Linked DNA regions of Homo sapiens. The protein of the gene in region 3 interacts with the protein of the main gene of each other region in a pairwise test. Each region holds a gene or a part of one and is shown on either strand. Other genes may lie near its edges.

Region 1 (7,294 bases), on a different chromosome or scaffold from region 3:
GAGTTACCATTATAACATGTAAATGAGACTACTGAAAATAGATTTACATACAAGGTGTGTAAGAACAGTAAAATGTTTTGTGGTAAAATATTATAAAAAGGCATGGAAATGTAAATATTGCCTAAGGATAAAGGATTGTTTTGAAACCAACTTAAGGGTAAAATCTTGCTTTCTCTCCCTTGTATACGATTGTCATGTAATAGTGAAGAATAATGAAAGATTTTCATTTGCATGGTGGATAGACTGCCAAGAAGAGGAAAGAAGACAGGAGACAAACTTTGGAAAGCTAAGTCTTCCCTCTTAATGAGTAAAGATTTTTGCCTTGTTTTAAAATTTTTGAGTCATCATTTAGGCAAAGTAAATAACTTATGGTAACCTGGAACTGTATTTCATAATATCAAGTGTTTTAAACCTCTAACATTTAACAGGCTTTTCAAAATCAAACTTCAGTTTCAAAATTGTCTTTCCTGACCCTCTAGCTTTTCAATGCTACAGAGGGCCCTGAAGCATCCAGAAGAGAGGTAAACAGGATTATTTAACATATTTAGGCACGTGGAATTGCCAAAATGATGTTTAATGTTCTTCAGGTTATATTTTAGTGAATAATACTGATATGTGTTCCAAAATTGTATGGGATGTCTAAAATTCCAATGTCTGAGTACATGTTATCAATCAAAATTAAGGTTATGTTAAACCATTGTCAACCACAGAAATAACCAGATTTGTCAATCGTGTTTTTAACTGTAACTACCCTAGAAATTTTGTCATTCACAGACAATTGTCGTCTTGTTTTAAGCTTTTTCAAGAGACAGCTTATAATCAGCTATAAGACTTTAACAGGTGCTTTCACATGCAGGTTTCTGATAACTTTGGAAATCGTGACATGGGAGTAAAGACATACATACTACCAGTTTAGATTCTTTAATGGTTAGTAGTTTAATCAGATATTCTATGTCTTCTTGAATCAATTATGGTATTTTCAATTTTGCAGAAAATTAATTTATCCAACTCTTCAAACATATTAGCATAAAGTTGTGCCTAGTATTCTCATATAAATTTTTCTATATTATCTGTACATGTGCCCTTTTATTCCTATTATGTCTTTTCTTGAAGTCTTATTACTTTTCATTGAGATAAATTTACATATAATTAAAGTGCAAAAACTTTAAGTGTACAGCTTGATAAATTTTTACATATATATGTGTGTATATATATATCTGTTTAACTTCCAACAAAATCAAAATATAGAACATTTCCAATATCCCTAGAAGGCACCTTTGTGGCCTCTAAGTCAATAACCCCAAAATGTCTATGTAAGTAAGTCTGCTTGAATTTCATGTAAATAAAATGCTACAGTATGTACTCTCTTCCTTTAATCTGTAAGATTAATTTTTGTTGTTGTATGTATCAGTAGTACATTTGTTTTGTAGGGCTTTTTGAAAATTAAGTATTCCATTATTTGAGTTGACCATTCAATTTCATTTTTATTTTTTATTTTTATTTTTTTGAGACAGTCTCATCTCACTCTGTCGCCCAGACTGGAGTGCACTGGCACAATCTCAGCTCACTGCAACCTCTACCTCCCAGCTTCAAGCAATTCTCATGCCTCAGCCAGGCTGGTCTCAAACTCCTGGCCTCAAGTGATCCGCCTGCTTGGCCTCCCAAAGTGCTGGGATTACAGGTGTGAGCCACGGCACCCAGCCTGATAATTCAATTTCATCTGTCTCAACTGGGCTTTGTGACCCAGGTATTGTCCTTTGCTAAGAGCCTCAGAATGCTGTTTTGTTTTCACAATTCTGAAAAACAGTTTCAGGAACAACATTCAGGCTATTTCCCTAAACAAAAACAAAAGATAAGTGCAAAAGAAAAAAAGAAAAGAGTGTGTCACCAGAAGGATAATGAGGTTGTCTGATTTGTAAAAGGAAATATCTATAGCTGGAGATAAATGGCAAAGTTGTCCAGCCAGGTAGGTTCCCAAAAGTATTTTAATTTTCTTAATGATTATGTCTGGGGTTACTTTGGTACTTTTCTTACAAGCAAACTTTGTGGCCATAGGCCTCTCCATTTTAAAAAGAATAATTAAATTCTCTACAAAATTACTTTCATTCTCCTTTGCTGAGGGCTTTAGAATCTTCCAGTCCTGTGGAGTTGCTCAGTTTCTTCCCTGGATCCTGTTTTCAAAAACAGACAGAAGGGCAACCCGCTCGGGTCCCCTTCCACACTGTGGAAGCTTTGTTCTTTCGCTCTTCACAATAAATCTTGCTGCTGCTCATTTAAAAAAAAAAAAAAGGAAAGGAAACAGGCCACAGACAGAAAACAGGCCACTGATTGCCTCAGGATTAGGAATGCAGAAGGGAGGATCACAATGGAGCAAGAGTAATCTTTTAGGGGTGATGGATATGTTCATTTATCTTGGCTGAAGTGATGGGTTCACAGGTATATAGATATGTCAAAACTTATCAAACTGTACACATTAAATATGTAAAGTTTATTATATGTCAATTCCACCTAAAAAAATCTGTTAAAAATGGAATAGATACAATATTTATAAAATACATGCAGGTTATAACAAATCATGAAACAACAGAACACTCCCTGTATCCATCACCCAGTTTTTTAAAGTAAATGTTTACTATTTTTAAAAAATTATTTTTTTCTGTGTTCCCTAGCCACCCTAAAGCTCAGGCCTTTTTCTTTTTCTTCTTTCTTTTTTTTTTTTTTTTTTTTAAAGAGATAGAGTCTCACTATGTTGCCCAGACAGGATTTGAATTCCTGGGCTCAAGGTATGCTTCTGTCTTAGCTCCTCAGTAGCTGAGACCATGGGCACCCACCACTGTGCCCAGATTCGGGCTTTCTTGTAAAAAGCGGATGGATGCTTGAAACTATTTTCTGAATCCCTTTGGCTCCCAAATGTGAATATTCTGGGAAATATTTTTATCCAAATTAGCTGAGTAATCGAGTAGTTAGGCACATTTTGAAGACTGAGGCTTGTCCTTTAAAAGAAGGGCAGCCCACAAACTGACTTCCTTGAGCCAAAAATTGTTTTAAAAGGGGAAGTACAGCCCAAAACAGTGATTTTAAAATATCAACAAAAAGAGTCAAATTCTGTAAAATATTTAAAGAGATTTATTCTGAGCCAAATATGAGTGACCATGTCCTGTGACACAGCCCTCGGGAAATCCTGAGAACATGTGCCCAAGGTGGTCAGGGTACAGCTTGGTTTTCTACATTTTAGGGAGACATGAGGCTTCAATCAAATACATTTAAGAAATACATTGGTTCAGTCCAGAAAGGCAGGACAACCCGACGCGAGGCAGGGAGCTTCCAGGTTATAGGTACGTTTTAAATTTTTCTGGTTGACAATTGGTTGAGTTTATCTAAAGACCTGGGATCAATAGAAAGGAAATGTCTGGGTTGCAATAAGAGTTGTGGAGACTGAAGTTTTATTATGCAGATGAAGCCTCCAAGTAGCAGGCTTCAGAGAGAATAGATTGTAAATGTACTTAAGGTCTGCGTTGATGTGAATGCCGGCTTGAGGTATAATGAGGCATATCTGACCCCCACTTCCCCTCATGGCCTGAAACAATCTCTCAAGTTAAATTTTAAAAGCGCCCTGGCCAAGGAGAAAGTCCATTCAGATGGTTAGAGGCCTTAGAACATTATTTTTGGTTTACAAAAACGTTGAGTTGTGAACACTGAGAGCCTCTGCCCAGAATGTAAAAGAGAGAATTCTTGCTGACTGTGGCCGGGCATGCATGTCCTTTCACTTCCTTTTTTTTTTTTTAAAAAAAAAAAAAAAAAAAAAAAAAACAGGGTTTGGGCGGGGGAAGTAAGGGGGATGTGTTATGATAAAGGGGCCTTGGCAGCACTCTTCTGGTGTGGTTTGACCAGGCTCCACCCACGAATTCTGTTTTCTTTTAGAGGTCACTGGAGAGCCCGGTGGGGTGTAAGTACACTGCGCTTATAAAACTCTAGCAGGAAGCTAGCAGCTGTCTCCAAACCCAGAGAAGGGGAAACAGGAATCGATTAGGAATAAAGGATTATAATCCACTTTCCTTCTGAGGAAAAGCTGGGAACCTTCTCATTTTGCCTTATGAAAACTAAGCTGAATCGACTGCTGCCAAACATCTATTAGGCAAAATTGGCCTCTTGCCCATGATTTGACTTTCCAGCACAGCCAGTTCTTTTTCTCCTCTGCAGCTGATTGGCTCTGGAGTGTGGCCAGAAGCCTCTCTCCTGCAATTAAAGGAGTCGGGTCTCTAACTGTTGATCTGTTTTTTTCCCTTCTGAGCAATGGAGCTTACCATCTTTATCCTGAGACTGGCCATTTACATCCTGACATTTCCCTTGTACCTGCTGAACTTTCTGGGCTTGTGGAGCTGGATATGCAAAAAATGGTTCCCCTACTTCTTGGTGAGGTTCACTGTGATATACAACGAACAGATGGCAAGCAAGAAGCGGGAGCTCTTCAGTAACCTGCAGGAGTTTGCGGGCCCCTCCGGGAAACTCTCCCTGCTGGAAGTGGGCTGTGGCACGGGGGCCAACTTCAAGTTCTACCCACCTGGGTGCAGGGTGACCTGTATTGACCCCAACCCCAACTTTGAGAAGTTTTTGATCAAGAGCATTGCAGAGAACCGACACCTGCAGTTTGAGCGCTTTGTGGTAGCTGCCGGGGAGAACATGCACCAGGTGGCTGATGGCTCTGTGGATGTGGTGGTCTGCACCCTGGTGCTGTGCTCTGTGAAGAACCAGGAGCGGATTCTCCGCGAGGTGTGCAGAGTGCTGAGACCGGTGAGTGAAAGGGTGTGAGGAGGACTAGTTAGTAGCAGCTATTATCATAGAGGGCAGGCCTGTCAATTTCAGGTGGCTGAAACATTTTAACATAAAAAGTAAACTACTAGAAAATACTGTAGAATTTTTTAAAATTTTAGCGTGGGAGAGAAGCTATAAAGAGAAAGATTGATAAATCTGAATATAAAAACTTAAAACTGCTATAAAGAAAAAACCTCCTGGCCGGGCACAGTGGTTCACGTCTGTAATCCCAGCATTTTGGGAGGCCAAGGCAGGCAGATCGCTTGAGGTCAGGAGTTCGAGACCAGACTGACCAATATGGTGAAACCCCATCTCTATTAAAAATACAAAAATTAGCCAGGCATGGTGGCAGGTGCCTGTAGGCAGGAGAATCGCTTGAACCTGGTGGGGCAGAGGTTAAAGTGAGCCAAGATTGCACCACAGCACTCCAGCCTAGGCAACAGAGTGAAACTCCATCTCAAAAAAAAAAAAAAAAAAAAAAAGAAAGAAAGAAAAAAAAGAATAAGAAAAAAAAACTCCCCAAAACAAAGTTAAACTACAAAACAAGCTTGGAAAAAATATTTGCCAGGGATGATAGACAAAGGGTTAACTTCCCTCATGTTAAAAGACATTACATGTCAATAAGATCAATATTTTTCAATAAGAAAAACAAAAGGGAAAATGGGCAAATAACAGGAACAGAAATGTAAACCAATTATAGGACAAAAGTGCTCAAACTTAAAGAGTTAATTAAAGGAGATACTAATTTTACCTATTATACTGTTAGGGACTTCTTTTAAGGTCAGTATAGGGTTGGGGTGGGTTTAGGGGACTGGACACCACCATACACATTAGAAGAGGTACCCTCTTTGGGTGGTATCTGATAATATCAAAATTTAAACCACACATACTCTTTTATCCACATGCAAAAACTTGTCCATACACAAGAATATTAAGTAGAATTTGTAATTGCACAAACTGGAAATAACTGAAATGTCTATCAATAGGATGCTATGTAAGTGAGTTGTCATATTGTATAAAGGAACACTGTGCAGCTGTCAGAAAGAACAAGAAGAGTTATCTGTGCTGATACTTAAAAATCCCCAAGGGATAATGTTTAATGAAAACAAAAAGCAATCAAGCCACAGAATGTTAGGTAGAGCGTAGGCCCACCACATGCCCATTGTGTGAGGCAGGGAGAGGAGATACATATATGTGTATAAGTTAATGGGAATGACAGACAAGTAACTATTAACAGTGGTTGCCTTTGGGGAATGGGATTGGATTCAGGGAAAGAATTACTTTTCATTTTAAACCTTTCCGTAAAGTCTGTAATTCTTTATACCTGTATGTAGTTTTCACATATTACCCTTATTATTTTTAGCTAGTTTAAAATCGTTTTATATTCTGAACAAAGTTGAAGATATGGATATCTTAACATTTGAATTTACTCTTCTGGGGGAAAGGCATGTTTTGTAATCCCCAGTTTTCATTTTTTGTTGAGACAGGGTTTCCCTCTGTCACCCAGGCTGGAGTGCAGTGGCATGATCACAGCTCACTGCAGCCTTGACCTGCTGGACTCAAGCAATCTTTCCGTCTCAGCCTCCCCACCCTCCCAGCAGCTGGGACTACAGGCATGCACCACCACACCCAGCTAGTTTTTGTATTTTTGTAGAGATGAGGTTTCGCCATGTTGCCCAGGCTGGTCTCAAACTCCTGGGCTCAAGTGGTCTGCCCACTTTGGCCTCTCAAAGTGTTGGGATTACAGGTGTGAGCCACCATGCCCAACCATCAGTTTTATTTTCTAATAGAGGAAGTTCCTCAGGAAGAAAAGAACTTGGAGATAGGGTTTAGGGAAAATCATACAATCCTGTCTTGGCTCAATATCAGAGTAGTAAATAAAAAAGGACTGATTCTTATACCCAAATGCTGGGTTCTTATATGCTAAGACTGGGCACCAACTGGCACATTAGTAGATGTTTTGCTTACAGTGTTACTAATCTCCCAACACCGCTGCAAGGCAGGTAATTATTATCTCAGTTTTCCAGTGCCAAAAATCAATTGAACTCTTAAAGTTATCACATTCGTGATAGTCTTCCTTAGCTCCTGCCAAGCACCCACTCTCTGCTGGATATAACAAGGGAACTTTATTACATTTTCATTTAACCCTGTCAACAGTCCTCTAAAGTACATATCTTCATGTTAGGACAAAGAAACAGACTCAGAGAGATTAAGGAATTTGCCCAAAGTTACACAGCTAGTAGACATGGCTCTCTTTAATGCAAATGCAAATATTCCTTTTTTTTGAAACAGAGTCTTGCTCTGTCGCCCAGGCTGGTGTACAGTGGCATGATCTTGGCTAACTGCAGCCTCCACCTCCCAGGTTCAGTGACTCTCCTTGCCTCAGCCTCCCGAGTAGCTGGGTTTACAGGCACATGCTACCACGCCTGGCTAACTTTTATATTTTTAGTAGGGATGGGGTTTCACCATGTTGGCCGGGCTG
Region 2 (7,026 bases), on a different chromosome or scaffold from region 3:
AGTTTCCAGAATTCAGTATGCATATATGTTGGATAGTTTAACGATTACAGGTTTTCAAAATAGTTTACTAATAAACTATTTTATTAGTATTTTTTTCTCTTTGGAAAATTGCATCATATGAGTGGTCTACTTTTTCTAACCCATTTATCTTGTAGGCTTTTAAGAACTGTGCTATTGTTGACTTCTTCACAGAATCAAGCACTCTTTTGGAAGAGGGTAATCTCTCTCCAAAAACTGAGGACACTTACCTTCCCCATATATTGAGTCCAGCTGTGTTTGGTGGCCCAGGTGAGTGGCACAGTGATTTGGTGTCTTCTCTATAGGATATACAGAATAGTGTGGCATTTATGAGATATTGGATACATTTGTATGAATGTTTACAGCAGTTTTATTAATATTTTCCTGTGCAGTTATTATTCTGACTTACGAATCTTGTTTCATTGTGTTTGAAAACTTAGGTACTAATTTCAAGATGCCAGGACGTTCCAGTTCAAATTCAGGTTCAACTGGTTTCATCTCCTTCAGTGGTGTAGAGTCTGCTCTCTCCTCCTTGAAAAACTTCCAAGCCTGTATCAACTCTGGTATGGACACAGCTTCTAGTGTTGCTTTGGATCTTGTGGAAAGTCAGAGTAAGTAAAATTAAAACCTCTTTTGTGTCTACTTTGAGGTAACACTGTGTGGTGGTATTTATCTGGGGGTGCCTTTTGAGTATCCTTGGGGGAATGATTTAACCCCTCTAGGCATCTGTTGTCTCATTTTATTCTACACACCGCAGCAGGGTACTGAGGGTGAAATAAGATTGACTCATTCATGTGTGTTCAGACAGTTAAGTTCCATGAGAAACTGCGCTAGAAATGTATGGGCAAAGATTTGAAGATCCTGACCCCAAGGAGCATACAATCTAAAGTATTTGACATTTGTGAACTGTAAGGTATATAAATTTATTATGATATTGTTATTTTTCAGTAGTTTATACTTTGGTCATACTTGATTAACCAGTAGATAGACTAAGCTTATGCTAGGGATACCAGCAAAGGAAGGCCTCAACAAAAATGAGAAAAGTTCAACTTTAATGAATTTTACCTACATTTGTTCAATCAAGAAGATCTAGAAAGATGTGATTTGCAGGCCGGGTGCAGTGGCTCACCCCTGTAATCCTAGCACTTTGGGAGGCCGAGGCCGGCAGATCACGAGGTCAGGAGTTTGAGACCAGCCTGGCCAATATGGTGAAACCCCGTCTCTACTAAAAATACAAAACCAACATGGTGAAACCCCGTCTCTACTAAAAATACAAAAAATTAGCTGGGTGTGGTGGCAGGTGCCTGTAATTCCAGCTACTCGGGAGGCTGAGACAGGAGAATCACTTGAACCCGGGAGGTGGAGGTTGCAGTGAGTCGAGACCGAGCCACTGCACTCCAGTCTGGACAACAGAGCAAGACTCTGTCTCAAAAAAAAAAAGAAAAAAGATGTTATTTGCTTTCTTTGGAGTAGAATCGTTTTTATTTTATTTTACACATGGAGCCAGAGGAGCAGCATGATCCTTTTGTTTTGTTTTTATTGGCATAGGTTTTGAGCAATTTGTGATGTGCCGTGGTGTGATTTTTTTTGTCCTGACTGATATTGTTTGAGATTTATGGATCTGTCAGCTTATAGTTTTTTGAATCAAATTTGGAAAAATTTCTGCTACTATTTCTTCAAATATATTTTTTTAATTCCTCTGCTCTCCTCTCCTTCTGTGTGACTCACATTTCATGTATGTTAGATGGGTTGATATTGTCCCATAAATCAGTGGAACTTGATAGATTTTTTCCAGTCTTTTTACTCTTTAGCTTCAATTTGAATAATTTCTATTGCTAAGTTCATTCATCTTGTCTACTGCAGTGTCTAATCTGATAATTCCATTTAGTGAATTTAAAAATTTCAGTTACTGTATTTTTAATTGTTGAAGACATAACAAAGAATTAAGTAGAATCTTTTTTTTTAGTCTTCCATTTCTTTCTTCATTGTGTCCATATTTTCCTCTACATTCTTGAGTATATGGAGCATGTTTATAATAGCTATTTTAATATCCTTGTATGTTAATTCTGTCATCTCTATGTGTATTATGTTGTTGAGTGTTTGGATTTTGTTGTCTTTTTTTTTTTTTTTTCAGCCGGAATTTTGCTCTTGTTGCCCAGGCTGGAGTGCAATGGTGCGATCTCGGCTCACTGCAACCTCCGCCTCCCGGGTTCAAGCGATTCTCCTGCCTCAGCCTTCGGAGTAGCTGGGGTTACAGGCATGCGCCACCACGCCCAGCTAATTTTGTAATTTTAGTAGAGACGGAGTTTCTTCATGTTGGTCAGGCTGGTCTCAAACTCCCAACCTCAGGTAATCCGCCTGCCTTGGCCTTCCAAAATCTTGGAATTACAGGCATGAGCCTCCATGCCCAGCTTGTTGTCCTCTTTTAAATAGTGTTGGAGTTTGTTTGGTGTGCAGCTAAGTGATTGTGGATTAGGCTGATCCTTTCTAGGCTTATCGTTAAGCTTTGTTAGGTCAAGTCTAATATAGCCTTTATGTTAGGGCTAATTTAGCCTTGTTACAAAGCATGGCCCTTCTGGAGTCTCTCTTGATTGCCCCGAGGGTTCAGTGCGATAGCTCTACTCTGGCTGGATGGAATTTGAGTGTCTCCCGGTCCTAGGTCCTACGTGACTGAACCTGGGAGTTGTTCACTTTATAGCTGTCAGTATTTGTTGCTCAGCATCTTAGGACTCAGCATCAGACTCAAGGGGACCCCAGTGCAGATTCCTAGAGCTCTTTATCTGCATAGCTCCCTCACTCTCTTGCAAACCCTGCTGGCTGCCTCAGCCTCCCTGAACTGAAGTCTCTGTCTCCTCAATCCTTCAAGACTGCTGTGCTAGGCCGAGCATGGTGGCTCCTACCTGTAATCCCAACACTTTGGGAGGCCGAAGCAGGAGGATCTCCTGAGGTCAGGAGTTCCAGGCCAACCTGACGAAACCCTGTCTCTACTAAAAAACAAAAATTAGGCATGGTGGAGGATGCCAGTAGTCCCAGCTACTGGGGAGGCTGAGGCAGGAGAATTGCCTGAACATGGGAGAAGGGGGTTGCAGTGAGCCGAGATTGTGCCACTGTACTCCAGCCTGGGGAAGAGAGTGAGACTCTGTCTCAAAAACTCCCTTGGATTCCTCCTCCCTTGCGCAGGGAGGAGGCCATTGCAAGACTTTTCCCAGTTTTCCCTTATTGCAGTAATTACAGTCCTGTCCCGCCTTTGTCCTACTGTCCCACAGCTATTGTTTCATATATTTTGTTTAGTTTTTCAGTCATTCATGGCAGGTGGACCAGCTCCATACAGTTATTCATTTACGGCTAACAGCAGGTGTCACTCATAATCTTTTTAGTGGGTGGCCTCCAAATGTTTTAACCCTACCCAGTCTGTTTTTGATTATGTTTTTGGTGATCATAATTTAGCTTTGATAGATAGGCCTGGATAAAAGTCATAATAAAATCTTAAACCATAAGAGAGAAGACTGGAACATAACCCCTTGGGAGATTGTATCAGTTTTTTTCAGGATTCTTTTTGAAGATTCCTGGGAGTTTTAGCTACAGAGTTTTTTTTTTCTCTTGGTTTTGTTTTGTTTTAAATAAGAGGTATATTTTGTTGTAAAATACAACATGTGCAATTTAAGAAGAATTATAAACATCATTTTTTGAAAGGTTCATGCTCTAAAGCCAAAGTTGGCAAAGTTTTTCTATAAAGGGCCAGATAACAAATATTTTCAACTCTGTAGGCCATGTGGTTTCTGTCACAACCCGCTGTTGTAGTGCAAAACCCACCATAGATGGTACGTAAATGAATGGGCATGGCTGTGGTCTTATAAAACTTTATTTACAAAAATGGGCAGTGGGCCGGATTTGGCTCACAGGTCTTAGTTTGTCAACCCCTGCTTTAGTGCCGCAGATTGTCATTAAGTAATTTTTAAAAGAAAGATGTATTTATTTTTTAATATTTGGATTAATTTTACAGCAAATACTTGATTTTGCATTTACCAAAAAAGTTAATTTAAGAAAAATTTTGAGCAAGTTATATGGGAAAAAAAGTGAACTAAACAACTTAGACAGACACAGAGTCACCAGGAGCCTGGACTTCTTATGAACTCAATATGTATATGAATACATGCGTGTGTGTGTGCATACACACACACACACACACACACACATTTTAACTAATACCAGGAGTCAAAATAACAAAGTAGTCAACATAAACTAACCAAGTGACTATTCTGCATATAATTCAGCTCTAGGTTTTAAAGAGGACATAAACAAGTATTAAGTAGTTCTTCCCTTCATAGAGTTTACCATCTTAGTGGGAAGACAAACACATATTAAAATACTAAAACAATGAGAAAACAGAAAAGATGTTATAAAGCTGCAAATAACTAATATCACCACTGATCTTATCAGAAAAGTCATACGCTCTCAAATTTATAATGGTGAACACAAATTTTTCAAAGTTCTAATTTTTTCTTTAAAACTTTCACTTTGGGCTGAGTGTGGTGGCTCATGTCTGTAATCCCAGCACTTTGGGAGGCTGAGGCAGGTGGATCACGAGGTCAGGAGTTTGAGACCAGCCTGACCAACTTGGTGAAACCCCATCTCTACTAAAAATACAAAAATTAGCCGGGCGTGGTGGTGCGCACCTGTAATCCGAGCTACTCAGGACTCAGGAGGCTGAGGCAGGAGAATAGCTTGAACCTGGGAGGCGGAGGTTGCAGTGAGCAGAGATCAGGCCACTGCACTCCAGCCTGGGCGACAGAGCAAGACTCCATCTCAAAAAAAAAAAACAAACAACTTTCATTTTGGCCGGGTGCTGTGGCTCACACTTGTAATCCTAGCACTTTAGGAAGCCGAGGCTGGAGGATCACCTGAGTTCAGGAGTTGGAGACCAGCCTGGCTAACATGACGAAAACCTGTCTCTACTAAAAATACAAAAATTACCTGAGCGTGGTGGTGGGCGCCTATAATCCCGGCTACTCGGGAGGCTGAGGCAGGAGAATCGCTTGAACCCTGGGGGCGGAGGTTGCAGTGAGCCGAGATCACGCCACTGCACTCCAGCCTAAGTGAAAGGGCAAAATTCTGTCTCAAAAAAAAAACAACAAAAAAAAACTTTCATTTTACCATTAGCAACAAATGCTGTTAGTTGTTGTCTTTGAAATTACAGTTGCACAGGCTCACTTTCTTCATTTTTGAGAAAATGTCTTTCAGATACCCAAACCTGAATAACCATAGTTTGTCTGTGAATTGTTCTATATTGTACTGTTTTATCAAGGACATTCTTTTTTTTTTTTTTTTTTGAGATGGAGTCTTGCTCTGTCCCAGGCTATAGTGCAGTGGCACGATCTTGGCTCACTGCAACCTCCGCCTCTTGGGTTCAAGCTATTCTCCTGCCTCAGCCTCCTGAGTCCTGAGTAGCTCGGATTACAGGTGCACACCACCATGCCCGGCTAATTTTTGTATCTTTAGTGGAGACGGGGTTTCACCATGTTGTCCAGGGTGGTCTTGAACTCCTGACCTCGTGATCCACCCTCCTCGACCTCCCAAAGTGCTGGGATTACAGGCATGAGCCACCAGGCCTGGCCTATCAAGGACATTCTTAAATGAAACTAGCATTTGTTTTACTATGAGTGCTTGGTAGAGAGGAATACAATGATCTATTAGAGTGCAACAGTTTGGTGCCACTGCTCTGATTTTTGCTAAGGCACCAGCAGTTTTTTCCACAATTGCTTTTGCACCATTAGTACAAACATTCAACATTTGTACTAATGGTGCAAATGTTAAAAAAGAAAAAGAAAAACAAACAAACCCAGACAAATAGCATCTTAAAATTATGATGTAAATAAGCTAGGCCTGGTGGCTGACACCCATAATCCCAGCACTTTGGGAGGCCAACCTGGGCAGATTGCTTGAGCTCAGGAGTTTGATACTAGCCTGCAGCAACATGGCAAACCCTGTCTCTACAAAACATACAAAAATTAGCCAGGCATGGTGGTGCACACCTGTAGTCCCAGCTACTCAGAAGGCTGAGATGGGAGGACAGCTTAAGCTCAGGTGGCAGAGGTTGCAATGAGCTGAGATCACACGACTGTACTCCAGCCTGGGCAACAGGGCCAGAGCCTGTCTCAAAAAAAAAATAAAAAAAATTATGATGAAAATAGTTTCGACCCATGGATCCCCTGAAAGGGCCCAGAAGAAATTACGATGAAAATAGTTTTGACCCACGGACCCCCTGAAATGGCTCAGAAGACCACACTGAGAACAAACTGAGTTTGATTGCTTATGAATAGGAGGTAGATGACATGAGAAGTCCTCTGCAGAGAGAAAGCCAAGGGCAATCACTCCCACTGGGGTAATTCAGCAAGAACTTGTTAGGGGAGCAGTGTTAATGTGATACCAGACTGAGGTGCTGTCCAAGGACCCAGAGAGTAGGAAAACACCGGTTGTTTAAGGAAATTGGAGGGTAGATCAGCCTGTAACAGTAGATGAAAGACTTGTAGAAGGCTGATACTAAGGCAGCCAGTATCAGCACTTAAGTGCACGCTTGCTATTGGGTCCAGTCCTAACTCTGTCATAAGTTCTGTAACTTTGAGTAAGGTACCTAACTTCTTTCAGCTTCTAATTTCTTATCTGTGAAATAGGATTAAAATGCCTGCTTCATAAGATTGTTGGGACTAATGAGATAATATATGCTAAGTGCTCTCAGCCACAATGTTAATTCAATAGCTATCATATATGACAACCAGCAATTAGTAAAATTTGAGGGTCAGAACTTAGAAGAAGGGCCTGTGATGTGAAGAGGGTAAGAAAGATGGATGAGTTTGGAAGTCTGTGTAAGACTGAGTCCAGCTAAGTCACTAATTCATCAGATATGTTGCCAAAACTACAAAGATAAATAAAGGTTTCTTCCTTTGAGTTGTTTACAGTCTAGGTAGGAAATAAGACATATACTTGTTATTCAATCATTAAGTGAACATT
Region 3 (7,026 bases):
GAATGGAAACTGAGGCTCGGGGGGAGTTTTGCACAGTGATTCCTGGGGGTGGAAGCTTTTACCCTTGCCCCATTTGTCAGGACCATGGGCTTCCCTGGCTCTTGCCCAGCTATGAACCCCTGTAGCAGGGCTTCTTCCTCTTTGGGCATGCCTACCTGAACCTCTGAGCCTGGTGGTGAAGTGGACCTGGGTAGCGCCGGTTGGGGGACTGGTAGAGCTGGGAGAGCAGGGCCTGGCTGGACTTCTGGCTGGGGTTGTTGGCAAACTTCACAGTAATCGGTTCCGTAGCACCGCTGGGCTTCTGGCCATTCAGCCCTTTGATGGCTTCTTCTGCCTCAATCCTCTTATCAAAGCGGATGAATCCCACCCCTCTGGACACTCCTGGGGAAAGAGAAAGAGCCTTTGTAAAGAGTGAACACACCAAACTGGTAAACATCTTTGGGAAGAGATGGGTCCTGTGGATATTGTGTGAGGAGTAAGCCCACCTGTGGTGCCAGGGCTGAGCCCAGCTCCCTGATCTCTCTCACCAATCAAAACACGTTTACCTGCATTCCTGCTATCATGGCTCTGGACTGATGCCTCCCAGCCACAGAACACAGGGCTCTCTTGCATCTGGCCCCTCTAGTCCTCTATCACTGCTCTGCCCCATCATCACCTCCCAAAAGTTACTATAACTGATCACTCACTGTCCAGTTTCTAGTCTTCTCATGTGTCCTCCACATGTAGCTAGTGTGCAATCTATTTGAAAAGTGAACTCTGACCACATGATATGCTTTAAAAACATCTTCTGTATCTCTTTTGTACTTTTTGAATTTTGTACCTTGTGCATAGTACCTATTCTTCACTGACTCCCATTCTAAAATGAATAACAAACAAACAAAACCTACAAAATACCCTTCCATGGCTCCATTCTGCACCCAGATAAAGTCCAGACTTCTTGGCACAGCATTCAATGCCTCTGGCAATCTGGCCCCAAATTCCCTATTGAGGCTCACACCAGCCACCCTGAACTGCCTGATCCTCCTCGAATAGACTGTTCTTCCTCGATTCCATGCCTTGGGATATGCTCTCCTCTCCACTTACACTGCTCTGTCCCTCCTTTTTGCTGGATACCTCTGAAACATCCTCCAAACTCCTATTCAAACATTGCCTCCTCAATGGGGCCCTCCTAGCAATTCCCACCAGGCATGGCACACCTTCTCCTGAGCTCTCAGGGGCACTTGACAGCTTCTAGCAAGTATTTGGACTCCACACTGGAGTCCTGTAAGGGTGGGGCAGTGCCTGCTTCTTTCTTGGTCTCCAGGGTCCCTCTGCACAATGTCTAGGGCAGAGCAGACTTCTGTGAAGGTTTGTCTCATGAATCACATGATAAACGTGCTAAACTATTCTCAGGGGGTGAGTTCTAAATTGGAATCAAATTGGAGGTAGGCGAAAACACCTTGTCATTAAAAGTGCAACCCAGAGTACCTGACATTTCTTACTGAGAGGTGGTGGCTGCCTTTCTTTATTATGGACAAAGAACACCAGTACCAGATCCTCGGTTCAGATCCTTGTACTGCTACTAACTAGCTTTGGGGAGTCAGATCCCCCACTTTCAACCTGTTTCCTCAAGTGTGAAATGGGACAATTCCTTCTAACTCTATAATGCTATGAATTGGAGTTACAGCTATGCATACAGGTTCTTTTCACATACAAAAGTAATGTTATTTGGTTGAGGGCTGAATCAGACTTTGAAGGTCATACAGTTCCACTCTCAGCCTGATGCCTGAATCCTTTTTACAACCCTGGCAAGTAGTTTAGCTGCTGCTAAAACAAGTCCCATGATGGAGAACTCCTACCTCCCAAGATGGCCCATTTTAAATTTGGGCAGTTGACCGATAAGAAGTCTTTCTTCCAAGTCAAAAATCTGTCTATTCATGATCCATATCATCTGCTTTAAGCAGCCATCAGCCTTCTGCTCTTATGAGTAACAGGGCTGATGACATTGATATACAAGGAAAGAAATTACAAAGAAACACTTAACCTGTGACTTGATCAACCAGGATTCGTGAGGTGATGATACGGCCGTATTGCGAGAAAAGTTGCTCCAGTTCCTTCTGGGTCATGGTTTTGGGAAGGCCGCTAACATAGAGGTTAGCATCCCTGATTGAGGCAGAGCTCGGACGGGCATATGAGACCTAGGAAAAGGCAAGAGGAGCTAATTCCATTATAGGCAATCACCCTCAGAGTAGATGCTGAGTCCACAACCAAGATGACAGCCCCTCATCTACCGTTACAACTCATGGTGTCAGTTTAAATCACTCAGTAGTTCAGATTTTTAGCTACCCTTGTAATAGTAATGAGAACCAGGAGAACAACAATAGAGGAACAACAGGAGAGTTGACAATAACTTAAAACAAATGCACAGATAAGGGTCTCTAAGTGCAGAACAAAATAGCTACTGTATGGCAGCTGTTAAATGCAGAGCTACCCACACATGGAGTTCTGAAGATTTACCTCCTGGAAGTGGGTGTATAGATGATTTACTGTATCCAACACATAATAATCTTTGAATAAACCAGAAAAAAAAAAAAAACCTCATGAAATTCTGCTCTGCACATTTCTCTCCTTGCCACCCTCCCTACCCCCATCCCCTTCTTCCTGAATACATAAAAGCAATCAGGTTCTCTGCAAGATTTTTTTATGTTCCATCCTTTGTGTTGCTCCAGTCTGTTCCCATGAGGTCTGCTCTCACCAAATGACAAAGTGCTGGTGAAATAGGGCTGAATGAACATCTGCTTGCGAAACTGGATATGTGACCTTGTCGTCACATCTGCAAGGACCAGTCGCCTCTAACTTTGAAGCAGGGCAGATAAAAACCACAACAAATAAAATGGGGGCAAGATGGAAAGGAGGGAGGGAAAGGGCAGTAGAGAGAGAGAAGAGAGCCTCACCAATGGTTATAATAAGTTCGACTTTGTAAATTTGTCCTCCCAGATCTCTCAACTGCTTTTCTTCCCCCCAAAAGCTAACACAGAAGTGTAAACAGATCTGAAATTCCATCTGCAAGAAGCCAAATCTGTAGCAGTACACATAAGCAAAGCAAACCCCAGCAGTCATTAATTTTAGACTTTCATTTACTTATTTATTTATTTTTTAAGAAAACAACATCAGACATTTGAAATATAATTTACAGCTAGTCTAACAAAAGCACTTTCCTGCTAAAGCTATTTCTGGGGTGGTTATGGCTCAGAATAGATGATGAAAACAGTCATTTCAGAGCACATCTGACAACGTTGGACAGGAAGAGACCTATATGCCTTAGCGTTTTTCAGTTGGAAGTTCTATTTAATCCATACAACTGATTCATAAGACCTATTAAGACTGTAGGGGTGAGAGTGTGTGTGTGTGTGTGTGTGTGTGTGTGTGTGTGTGTGTGTGTGCGTGCACACAAAAGCATGTGTGCAAAAGGAATTGAACACATTAAACCAGACCTTTGACATTAAGACCTAAACCTCCAGCAGTAATGTGGACCCTGCTTCTGTGACCTTCAGGGGAGAGAATGGGTCTAGCAAAGAAGATGAAGGATGAGCAGAACCCTCATCCATGGCACTCTCCCCCTTTCCATGACAGACATGCCAGGTCCCTTTATGGGTTCCATGCCTAAAAATAGATGTTGACTCAACAGATAAAATGATGTGAGTGACTAATCTGCCTCCCTGGCCTCCTCCTGCTGATGGAGTGAGGCAGCTGCCTTCAGTATCTCCATCTTCTAGAAACTCACGGGTGGGCTGGGAGGCCTCTGTGGGCTCCTTCTCAGCACATGGCTGAGATGTAGAGGGGCCTTTATATAGGGGGTCCCAGTGTGTGCATTTGCAGTGTGGGCTGAAGGACTAAGAACCCCATGTGACTGTCTGGACAGGGCTTCACTCCACAGAAGGTTCTCCCACCCCTGTTCTTTAAGGGACAAAGTGTGTCAATAGCAGAACTATTTTTTGAGTAAGAGGAAGAAGTGGAAGAAGGAAATAAAAACATCATAGTGATATGCCCATGGCAATGAGGGTCACCCTTGTTTCACCTTGCCAATTACTGACAAATTAATTATCCGAATGACATTTGTGCTCCCTCAAAACACAACCTACCACCTTTATACCTTTGCTCATACAGACATTTTTTTTATACCTACTTCCTCAAGTCCAAATCCTACTCCTCTTCAGGGCTCAGATCAAATGACATCTTCTCTAGGCAGCTTTCTCTAATCTCACCTTCTCCTAAAAATCTCCCCAGCAGTGTTCTCAATGAACCATGGTACTTAACCCGTTTCAACCTTAACTGACCACCTCTCCATCTAGGCTGATGATCTCTTTAGGTTGTAGGTCTTGTGTGTGTGTGTGTCCTATTCAACTCTGTGACTCTAGCTCCCAGCACATAGCCTGATACCTATAAAGTGTTCAACACCTACTGAAAAAATGAATAAACACCCACAGCTCATGAGAAATGATGTTGATATTATTGGCTCTTTGGAGTTAACTGTAACTCCAGTAAGGTGGACCACTGAGAGTCAGGCACCCAGAATCCCAGCTGTGTTTCTCCACCAAGCTAAGAGCTAAGGGACATATTTCCCATTTTCCAATGCCTGGGGCTGGAAGGACTGAAAGAAGATTGTTCTAGGACTAGACCTCACATAGAGGCCTTCTCTTAGCAAATATTTCCTGAGGATCTACTATGAGCCAGGTACAGTGGTATGTGTTGGCAACACAGCAAGAACAAGGCATAGTCTCTTGCTGTAAAGGAACTCCAAGTCCAAAGAGGGCAACAGACAACACATAAGAGGCACTCAATAAAATGTGTTGAACAAAAGAATGGATGAGTAAACATACAGACCAATTATCACAGTGCCACAAGATGTGTGTGTTATGCCAGGGATACATATGAGTGTGACTAAAACACAGAGGAGGGAGAGATTAATCAAAGGTTAAAAGGGCCGGGAAGGAGACACAGCTGAGCTGAGACTGGTGGTGAGAAAGGTGGTGGTGGAGTCAGGTAATGGTGGCCTGATAATAGCCTTCCTCTGTCACGAGGACAAATGAGGTGATGAAGATCAAGGGCTTAGCACAGTACCTGGCACCCAATAAATGCATAATGGATAGTCATGACCTTAACTCCCATTAGTTCTGCACAGCCAGAGCTAGGGTACAGAGGGAACAGGGTGAACCCTGCCAGGGAAGAGGAGCTGGCACTTGAAAGTTGGTGACACAACAAAAACCATTTCCCCAAAAGTTGATTCCAACATAGGTAGAATCTCAGCTAGGGAGAATTACTGCAACACATCTCCAGAGACAGACCCTAAATCCCCAAAGGCAGCAACAAATCCCAAAGGTGAACAGCACATCAATCATTCTCTACCAAGTCTAATTCCTGTTTAGTATTTCTCACCTATATGGAACCTTAAGTCTATTGTTCTCTCAGTTTCCTGTCCATGAAACCTGTGGCGTATGGATAAACAAAAATGACAGAAAAAAGATCTTCCTGCATTGAATATCCAAATGTTCATCCTAGTACCTAAAATTTTCAACTTTCCATATACATGTATTAAATTCTAACTGAATGACTACAGTGGTCAGGCCCTTGGTTAGGCTGAAAGATTTCCAAAAAATTGCCAATTTTCAGGGTCAGCATTGATGGCATATTAATGCCCCTGGGCCAGTGGCCTGGAGTCACAGGGCTTCCAACACTGGAGCCAGCGCCCTGGAGAACCCCCCTTGCCTCAGTCAGGATCCTGTTTGCTTCATTCATCCAGAATCTCTGAAGACAAGACTGGCATCTCTAGGCCAGCACTGACCTCCTTCTGGAACTCAGAAAGGGCTGGGAGTGAAGAAGCCACTCCTCTCTCTGGGTAGGGGTGGCTCAAAGCCAGGTGACTGTAAGCAGCTGACTTTACAGATGATCTCTATGGAAGATCTGAAGTCCCTCCAAGCTCCTCAGCTCTCCCCATCCCTGGTGCTCACAGTCTTCCCATCCTCCACCAGAAGGATGCTATAGCATCATGCTTATGATCCCTGACTGTGGGTCAGCTCCAGTACTCACTAGCTGCATGACCTTAGGCAAGTAATTTGATCTTGATAAGTCTCAACATCTTTGCTCGTAAAAAGGGGGTCAATTATCCTTTGATGGGTTATTGTAAGAACTGAGTTGATATATTTGTCTAGCACATACCTAGAACTTAGTAGATACTTACACATATTATTATGTGATGAGTCATACAGGCTTTTGTGGGCCAGCCTGGGAATCTAGCTCCCATTGGGACATACCCTCCAATTTCACCGGAAAAAAACCCCCAAAAAACAAACAAAAAAAACATGTGGAACACTACCAGGGAATGCCTGTAGAGGCACTGCCCTCCTCTGCCACCCTGGTGGGGTCTGGACCATCTTTTACCACTTTACTGACATGAATGTCCTCTAACACATTTCCACAGATCCCACTGCTTTATGCCGACAAAGTACTTTCCACTTTCCAAAGTGACTTCCCAATTCTGCTCTCAGCAAGTCTCACCAAGGTGGGTAAAGCAGGCGTTGTCATTCATCACAGATGGGGCATCAGGACGAGGGCTGAGGGCTGCCTCTTCCCATGCAGCACCCACAACTCCCTTTACCTGTTCATACACAGGGCTTGGCCTGGGCAGGGTGGGAAGAACAGCATGACCTGAGGAAGAATGTTCCCTGAATCATCCAGCAATACCTCACTCCTTGTCTGTCCTCCATAATACAGAAAAGGGAGAGGACATGGAAAACACGATAAAGGCATGTTGGGTGCAATGAGGAGGATAAAATGAGAGGGAAAAGGCATCCTTTTTAGCCCCAGAAAATTGCTCCTTTAGAAAAACACTGGCATTAGAAGATGGGAGTTCATTCATTCCTCCCCTTCCTAAACATCTACTATGTGCCAGGCCCTGGGATGGGTGTTGGGAATGTCTCTGCTTCACGAATCCCAGTCTGGAAAGGAAAGTAAACAAATGAAGCATGCAATACAGAGGGCTGCTTCCAA

The links. Proteins that work in one complex are often made in the same cells at the same time.
Region 1: the proteins of ELAVL4 (region 3) and TMT1A interact in binary tests that used the Homo sapiens proteins (3 or more experiments, as listed by UniProt).
Region 2: the proteins of ELAVL4 (region 3) and NSMCE2 interact in binary tests that used the Homo sapiens proteins (3 or more experiments, as listed by UniProt).

The regions. Positions count from the first base shown.
Region 1 is NC_000012.12:50,920,746-50,928,039, forward strand, and holds the start of TMT1A (thiol S-methyltransferase TMT1A precursor), read left to right. Parts: upstream 1-4,269; 5' UTR 4,270-4,293; coding exon 4,294-4,791; intron 4,792-7,294. UniProt on the Homo sapiens protein: Thiol S-methyltransferase that catalyzes the transfer of a methyl group from S-adenosyl-L-methionine to alkyl and phenolic thiol-containing acceptor substrates.
Region 2 is NC_000008.11:125,101,859-125,108,884, forward strand, and holds part of NSMCE2 (E3 SUMO-protein ligase NSE2), read left to right. Parts: intron 1-155; exon of another isoform or gene 156-192; 5' UTR 193-288; intron 289-458; 5' UTR 459-472; coding exon 473-629; intron 630-7,026. UniProt on the Homo sapiens protein: E3 SUMO-protein ligase component of the SMC5-SMC6 complex, a complex involved in DNA double-strand break repair by homologous recombination. Is not be required for the stability of the complex.
Region 3 is NC_000001.11:50,188,916-50,195,941, reverse strand, and holds part of ELAVL4 (ELAV-like protein 4), read right to left. Parts: intron 2,178-7,026; coding exon 2,024-2,177; intron 382-2,023; coding exon 156-381; intron 1-155. UniProt on the Homo sapiens protein: RNA-binding protein that is involved in the post-transcriptional regulation of mRNAs. Plays a role in the regulation of mRNA stability, alternative splicing and translation.